Homo sapiens: one gene and its partner. The protein of the gene in region 2 interacts with the protein of the main gene of each other region in a pairwise test. Each region holds a gene or a part of one and is shown on either strand. Other genes may lie near its edges.

Region 1 (3,751 bases), on a different chromosome or scaffold from region 2:
TGCATAATTTCTTAAATCCTGTAAGGGTACACAATTCATTGTCTGCTACCAAGAAACCCTCTATTAAATGTGTTAAGCATTATTGAAACAAAACTGCTTAATGTTATTAAGAATAATGTAAGGGCTAGATGGATTACATTAAATAACTACCAATGATGATGATAAATAGCTAACTTTTATTGAGTGCTTAATATGTGCTAAAGTATTCTAACATATATTGTTGACATATAAGTACCTGACATATATTAATCCACTTAAATAAATGTAAATGAATAATTTAAAACTAAGGAAAGTTGTTTAGAAGCATTTGGTCCAACCACAAAAATTATAGGTACAAAATTTTTTTGCAGCAAATACTGTGTATCTTTTAAAAGTAAAATCTAAACTGTTCACTTTGACTAGCTTGATATAATCTAAATATGGTATAGAAATCCCTGCTGAGTCATGAGGACCAAGTATTTCATTTAGTGTTTATTAGGTTCCTATTTAATAATCACAGCTACTTAAAGTGAAAATAATTTCACTGAAATTTTCATTTATCTTTTTAAAAAAATAATAAAGAGGTCAACTTTTGGAGCCTTAAATTGACCTACCTGAAAAGGTTGTTTGTTATTGTAGGTCTTAAGCTCCTGATTCCCCCGACATGCTTCTTTTTAAAATCGATCCTTGCAGAAGCGAGAAATAAATAAAAAAAAGCTTGTGACTTGTATGTCCTTTGCAAAGCATGTATGTTTATTTTCAGGGCCTATAGGATTTTCTTCCCCCCTCGCAGCTGCAAGAATCCATTTCAAGTCATATCGGGTAACAAGGAGCTTATAGCCTACCATAGTAAACAATTATAATAGGTCAGTGATGAGGCTCACATAGTGTAAAACCTGGCTAACATTTTGTATTTAAATTTGTTAAAATGCAACCATTATTGGTCACTTCTAAACATATATTTGCTTACCTGCTTGGTGTTAATCTGGACTCAAAACTGTTGGCCTTCATGGTGATGGTATCAGTAAATAGCACATCTTTTGCTGGAGATGCCAAAGCTTCAGAGTGAGATAAGGATGGATGCATTCTTTGTTGCTGTAGTCTTTTCAGTGTAGCATAGCCAAAAGCATCTCTAGAACTTGTGTAACTAAAGTTACAATCTGCTAGACTTTTAATTGTAGCAATAGAGGGTGCTTTAAGGGACTGTGCTCTTCTAGGAAGCGTATGAGAAGAACCTGGAGGCACCAGGGACACCGAATTTGATTTGGAGAGAGACAGATGGTTAGACTGTGGCGTCAAATAGTGGCTTGTCTTAATAGTTTTAGTACTTACCACAGTACTCATGCTTCCACAGTCTGTGTCCATAGTTGTAGCATCTACACCTACTGTCTCTCGTGAAGGACTTGAGCTCATTGAACTTATGCCACTTGTTGTAGTGTCTGTATTGAAACTTTGGCTACGTATCTTCATATGTGAGCTCGTTGAACTTTCTACTACTAACCTCTCTCGGCTTGTATTTTCTCTGTGATTCTCTGTACCAAAATTCTTGGTGAATTTTAAGTCATTTTCTCCAATGCTTGGTGTACTACCAGTGTCTTCAATGTGCTTATTCCCCATAAATGAAGTCTCTAATTGTAATGTTTTCTGTACAGTGGATATGGGTGTAAAATCATCACTATGATTAAAATCAACACTGGGCTCCGTAAGTGTTCTGATTCGCCTGTTGCTTGTCTTACTTTCAGATGATAATTTCCCTCCTTTTGGATCACTGCTACTACGATGTTTTTTGTTAGGCAAAGTAAGCGAATTTAAGATACGATTCTTCACAAGTTTACTAGAAGCAAAGAAAGGGAATGAATTTTTATCCTTTATGGGTCCAGATCGGTCATAAAATGTTGGCTCTGTATCTTCATTGATATCAAGGAAAAATGTGCTAGTAGAGCTGCTGCCAAACCGGTCATCCTCCAATATGAACATACCTATGATTGAAGGATCAATTAATAAAAACACATATAAAATGACAAATTCATGATAACTATTAGTGACATCACATTTCAGGAAATTTTTTTTTAGTCATCTAGAGGAAAAAATTTAAAAATAAACGGTTAAACCATTCAGCTACTTGAAAATATCTTTCTTGAAACCCAGAGTTTGGACTTGAATAAAATGTAAAATTATGTAATTTATGAGAATCTCCTGTTATTTCCAAAGAAAAATTATTATAAGACCCACTATGGCACAGGTTACATGAAGTTTCTTTTGATTCTCCAAATATTCAGGATGAAATTAAAGGGAAAAAGGAGACTTGGCCATGGATGCTTACTCAATTACTACAGATTCCTAGTGGTTCTTCTTTAAATTACTATAAGCAGGAGAAATTCACCTTGTAAGAAATGAATTCCCAATCTTAAAATATACTTACAGAGAACCAAGTGGTAACATTATAAATTCATGTTTAAATTATGTTTATTTCTCATTTTACCTTAGATACTAAGAAACTCATTAAATTTAGTGCCCAATTCTACTAGAAGACGCAACCCAAGTGAGTGCCTAATGACATCTATACGATTTTTCTTTTATTAACTTTTCTGTTGAATAATTACAAATACTTCAAATATATTTTCAAAGAAGGTAAAAGAAAATCCTAAGTGAATTTGCATACTGCATTACCATTTCTATATTTTGTCAATTCTAAGATGCACACTTTTCACATTTAATCCCTTCTATTTTCACACAGAATCTGATTCTAAAATCAATATGCATCTTGTAGTATGTCCTAGTTTAATAGGCAGCACTTCTTCTTTCTTCTTCTTTTGTGGTACATAAAATATTGGCATATTTCATAATTCATGGCATCTCAGATTTGGTGAAATACACAGTCTGATAAAGCTGACACTATCTTCTTAAAAGGAAGAACCATGCCTTAAATTTTGTACACCTAACACCACTTAGCACAGGACTTAAAACCACAAATCATTTTATATATAACTATTTTTGTTACTCTATTAACAATTTCACTATTTTAAAATTTAGTGCTTCTCTCAAAAATGAAGATGTGAATATAATATCAGTTAAAAATATATTCTGGCTCAACAATCTCAGTATCTGAAAAATGAGTAAAAAGATTAAATAAAGAAGGTAGACAAATAAATACTTGTTATATTTGTTTCTTTTCTGTCAAAAAAAGGAGGACTGGTTCTTCTGGCACATGGCTTATTACATAACTTTGTAGGAATCCTCAAAAGCTACTTAGAATATAAGGAGAGAGAAAAATGTAAGCTGGTGATTATACTCTTTGTTATGAAAATATACACATTCTCCAAGAGGCTATTATTGCCAAATAATTATCTTAGACAAAAGCAAATTACAAATGTAACAAATACATTTAAATTCTAAAATTCAAATATAAATGTTAACATTGGCTAACTTTATATGAACCTGTCAGGATACTCACTCGATGGCACAGATTCACTTTCACTATTATGTCTAGAGCTGGTTGACTCCGAGTTCAAACTTAGAGTGCTTGGGATAGATGAAAGTTCATTACAGAGTTGTTCCACATCATCTGGAACCACTGGCCACAGATGTTTGCGACTATGCCTCACAGCATCCCAGTTGTGACATTTTAGAATATCACAGCCTTGTTTGGTTTTAGCTATGAGCCCAAGTACATATACACAGGTCCTGTATATAAAAGATGCAGTAAAAACAGTTATAATTCCAAGCTGAGATTTCTTAAAGCCACCACAGATTAATTTGCTATACATACTTT
Region 2 (3,751 bases):
CCAGTACATCTCCTTTCACAGGCAGAAGGGCTCTAGTCTAAGGCTGTCTCCTCCCTGAGCTGGAACTCTGATCTCACACAGCCTCAGCTGCACCCCTAAGCCATGAGGAGCCCCAGAGGACCCCAGAGTCTCCCTCTTTCTCCCAAAGACTAGGAGCTACAAAGCCTGGCTCTAGGGTCTTTGAAAGAGCCACCCCCACACCAGCCCTTCCTGAACCAGGATTAAAAGACTTCCTAGAGCAGAGAAGGGGAGTAAATGAGGCCCCAGCAGGAGGCATGGAGATTAAAGACTTTAGAGTCTCCTAACTTCCATCCAAGGCTCTGCCCCGTCCCACCCCCTCCACCCGCTGGCCACTTTTCTCACTTCCTAGGAGAGTAGGGAAGTGGCCCCTTCCTCCCTCTCACAGAAAAAAAGCAAAAGAAAAATGCAGCATAGAATAGGGGTTTAGAACACCAGCTGGGATAGTCCCGGTTCAAAGCCCAGTACCCCCACTTAATCAGCTGTGCGATCCCAGACAAGCTACCCGGCCCCTCTGGAGCTAAACTTTCCCAATCTTAAAAACGGAGGAGGCAGGACCCAGTAGCTCACGCCTGTAATCCCTGCACTTTGGAGGCCGAGGTCGGCGGATCACTTGAGGCCAGGAGTCCAAGACCAGCATGGCCAACATGGTGAAATCCCCTCTCTGATAAAAATACAAAAATTAGTCGGCCGTGGTGGCTGGCGCGTGCCTGTAATCCCAGCTACTCGGGAGGCTGAGGCAAGAGAATTGCTTGAACCCGGGAGGCGGAGGTTGCAGTGAACCGAGATTGCGCCACTGTACTCCAGCCTGGGTGACTGAGGGAGACTCCGTCTCAAAAAAAAATTTTTTTAATTAAAAATGGGGGAAATACTCGTCCCTACTTCATAGACCGCCTGTGAAGGTTAAACCTGCTAATTAATGACACATGTAAGGTGTCTGGCACATAGTAAGTGGTCGGTTGTTATTTTACAAAGTCTGAGGCCGTGGTTTTGCACTTGGAGATGGGGAGTTGGTGGGGGTGGATGCAGTTAGGGAGCCTGGACTGCCGAGTTTTGAGTTCGAAACCCACTCTCCCCGAACTCCAGCAAAAACCTGTGCATGGGGGATTCTACCCTGGGGTTCTGTCAATCCCCGCCCCTCCTCTGAGCTTCAGGTTTTATCCTACTCCATCAACGCGCAGGGACGTTGGGCTCTGGGGCTCCTACGGTATGTCCTAGATGAGTGGTGCACCGGGCGCGTAGTTATTCCTGGGAAAAAGACGCAGGAGCGCCAGCTCCCGGCGCCGCCGGGGTCCCCAAGCCCCTGCATCGCGGATGTAACTAATTTTAAAACTATTTGAAAGGCGGGGACGGGGAAGAAAAGACAAAAGGGCAGCGCGCGCCGCGGGGAAGTGGAGTGCGGGAGAGCCCCGGTCGGAGCAGGACCGTGCGCCGGCCAGGGAGGGAGGCGACGCGACAGCTCTGGAGGAGCTCGGATCCCCCCCGCTTTCCGCGCGCCCTGCGGGGCGCCCCCGAGGCAATTCTCCACCCACGGGGACCACGGCCACAGGTTGTGGGGACCGCAGCGGGGCGAGCGGCTGGAGGGAAAGCTGTCCCCAAGCTCCCGAGCGACACTCACCGACTGCAAGAAGCGCAAGGTGCCCACGTAGTCCCTCTCGGTGCCCAAGATCTCGTTGAGGACGCAGAGGCGGAGGCGCAGCTGGCGCTCGGACTCCCGGGCGGCCGCGCACGGGCCGGGGCCGGAGCTGGGCGCCGCGGCGCCAGGGGCCCGGGGGTCCGGGTGGGCGCAGTCCCCGGCCCCGTCGCCGCCGGGCTCGCTGCCGCTGGGCGCCTCCATTCTAGCGCGGCCGCGCGGCGCCGGCTCCTTCCGTCGCGCCGAGCGGCAACTCAGGCGTCCAGGCGCCCCATCCCGGACGGGGCGCGCCGGCGGGCCGGGCTCAGCGGCGGGCCGGGCTCCCGGCGCGGCGGGCGGGACTGGGGGCCGGGCGGCTGGGCCGGGGGCGGAGGCAGCGCGCGGGGGCCGGGCGAGGGGCGGGAGGGGGCGGCCCTCGGGGCTCCCAGACGGCTGGCCCCCCGCCCCCGCGCCAGGGACCGTCTGCCAAGTGCCACGCCGCGCTCGGCCGCAGAGGCGCTCTGCGCGTGCACGGGGCCCCTGGGGACGCGGCGCGGCGCTCGGCGCCTCCGTCGGAAGCTCGGGGGTCGGGCGGGAGCCTCCGGAAGGGCCCCGCGGAGCCGGGAGTCCGAGGCCGCGCGCACGCCGAACCGAGCGTACCAACTCCGCGCCCGGACGCGTGGCGCCCCCCCAACCCGCAGTCACCGCGGGCTACGCCACTCCCACCCGGCACACGCGACACCCGCCGCGCGCAGGCTCCTGCTTGCAGGTCCGGCCGCTGCTCGGGCCAAGTAAACACCGGGCTGGGAAAGCTCGCTGCGGAGCCGCTCGGGGGCAAGCCAGCCCCGCCACGCGCGCCTCCGCGGCCCCGGGAAGTCAGGGGCGACCGCTGCCTGGGCAGTGACGGCCCCTCTCTGGGCAGTGACGGCCCCTCCCGGGAACGCCGGGCCCTCGCGGTGCCCTCGGTGCTACCACGACCTTGGGAAGGAACATGCGTGGCGCGCGCTCGCTCTCACTTTTCTCTTTCCCGTTTCCTTTCCCATCTCTCTCTTTCCTTCCTTCCTTTTCTTTCTGAACTTCTTTGCCCCCTGACCCTGCCCTTTCCACCTTTCCCAGAAGAAATTATTACCTGCTCTTGAGTTATTGATCAAGTGGCAGGTACCCTGCCTGCTCCCCCTTCCATCCACCCACCCCATGGGATAAGGCCTTGGGAAACCCAGCTTCTTGTCAGGTTGCTCTGGGCAATGTTGATCATCACCCGCCTTATCGGAAGGTATGGAGAGGGGAGGAAGTTCTGGGGCCTAGAGTCAGCTGCTCAGGTTCAAATCCTAGCTCCCCACTTGCTGGCCGGGTGGCCTTGGGCTGGTTTCCTTGCTTCAAGATCCTCAGTGTTTTCATCAGTATAACGGGAACGATCATGGTACCTAGCTCCAAGGTCCTCCCCGGGGTTCCATGGGAAGTACTTAGCACCTAGAAAGTTCTCTGTAAATGTTTGTTCTTACTATTATTGCATGTGTGAAGCCCAACACCTAGAAAGTTCTCTGTAAATGTTTGTTCTTACTATTATTGCATGTGTGAACGGCCCTCTAAGCCTGGCCCCACTCTCAAATGGCCCATACAATCCCTAATCACCCGTGTTTCCGGACCAGAGATTGTATCGTCTCTGCAGGGGATAAAGTGATCCACATAGTATCCGCCTCTAGACTGTAGTCATTTTATGGACAGAAACATTGCTTATTTATTCCTGTTCCAAAAGCCTAGGATTTTCCTCCCATTGGCCTCTCAATACTGTAAGTGCCTAAGGACACAGGGAGAGAATGGGGTGGCTTCTGCCCTCTCTGACTTCTTTCTTTGGGATCATGGGCAAGGTAGCATTTGATCTGGGCCTTGGGCTGAGTGAAGTTCCCCTGGGCAGGGAGTAAAGGACATGAGATAGGTGAGCCTGTCACGCTTGGGTAGTGGAGTCAATTGTGTCCAAAGGTAGCTGGTTTTTTATTTATATTTTTATTCCTAATAAAGGCCTCTGGAGTATCTCTGCTTTGTGACTTTAAACTGTTCACGGTACCTTTCTGAGCCTCCGTTTCCTCATCTTTAAATTAATTCTGTCTACCACGAGGGGAG

What was found. The genes of interacting proteins can lie anywhere in the genome.
Region 1: the proteins of PREX1 (region 2) and RICTOR interact in binary tests that used the Homo sapiens proteins (3 or more experiments, as listed by UniProt).

The regions. Positions count from the first base shown.
Region 1 is NC_000005.10:38,948,763-38,952,513, forward strand, and holds part of RICTOR (rapamycin-insensitive companion of mTOR), read right to left. Parts: intron 3,664-3,751; coding exon 3,434-3,663; intron 1,959-3,433; coding exon 950-1,958; intron 666-949; coding exon of another isoform or gene 594-665; intron 1-593. UniProt on the Homo sapiens protein: Component of the mechanistic target of rapamycin complex 2 (mTORC2), which transduces signals from growth factors to pathways involved in proliferation, cytoskeletal organization, lipogenesis and anabolic output.
Region 2 is NC_000020.11:48,826,006-48,829,756, forward strand, and holds the start of PREX1 (phosphatidylinositol 3,4,5-trisphosphate-dependent Rac exchanger 1 protein), read right to left. Parts: upstream 1,995-3,751; 5' UTR 1,856-1,994; coding exon 1,637-1,855; intron 1-1,636.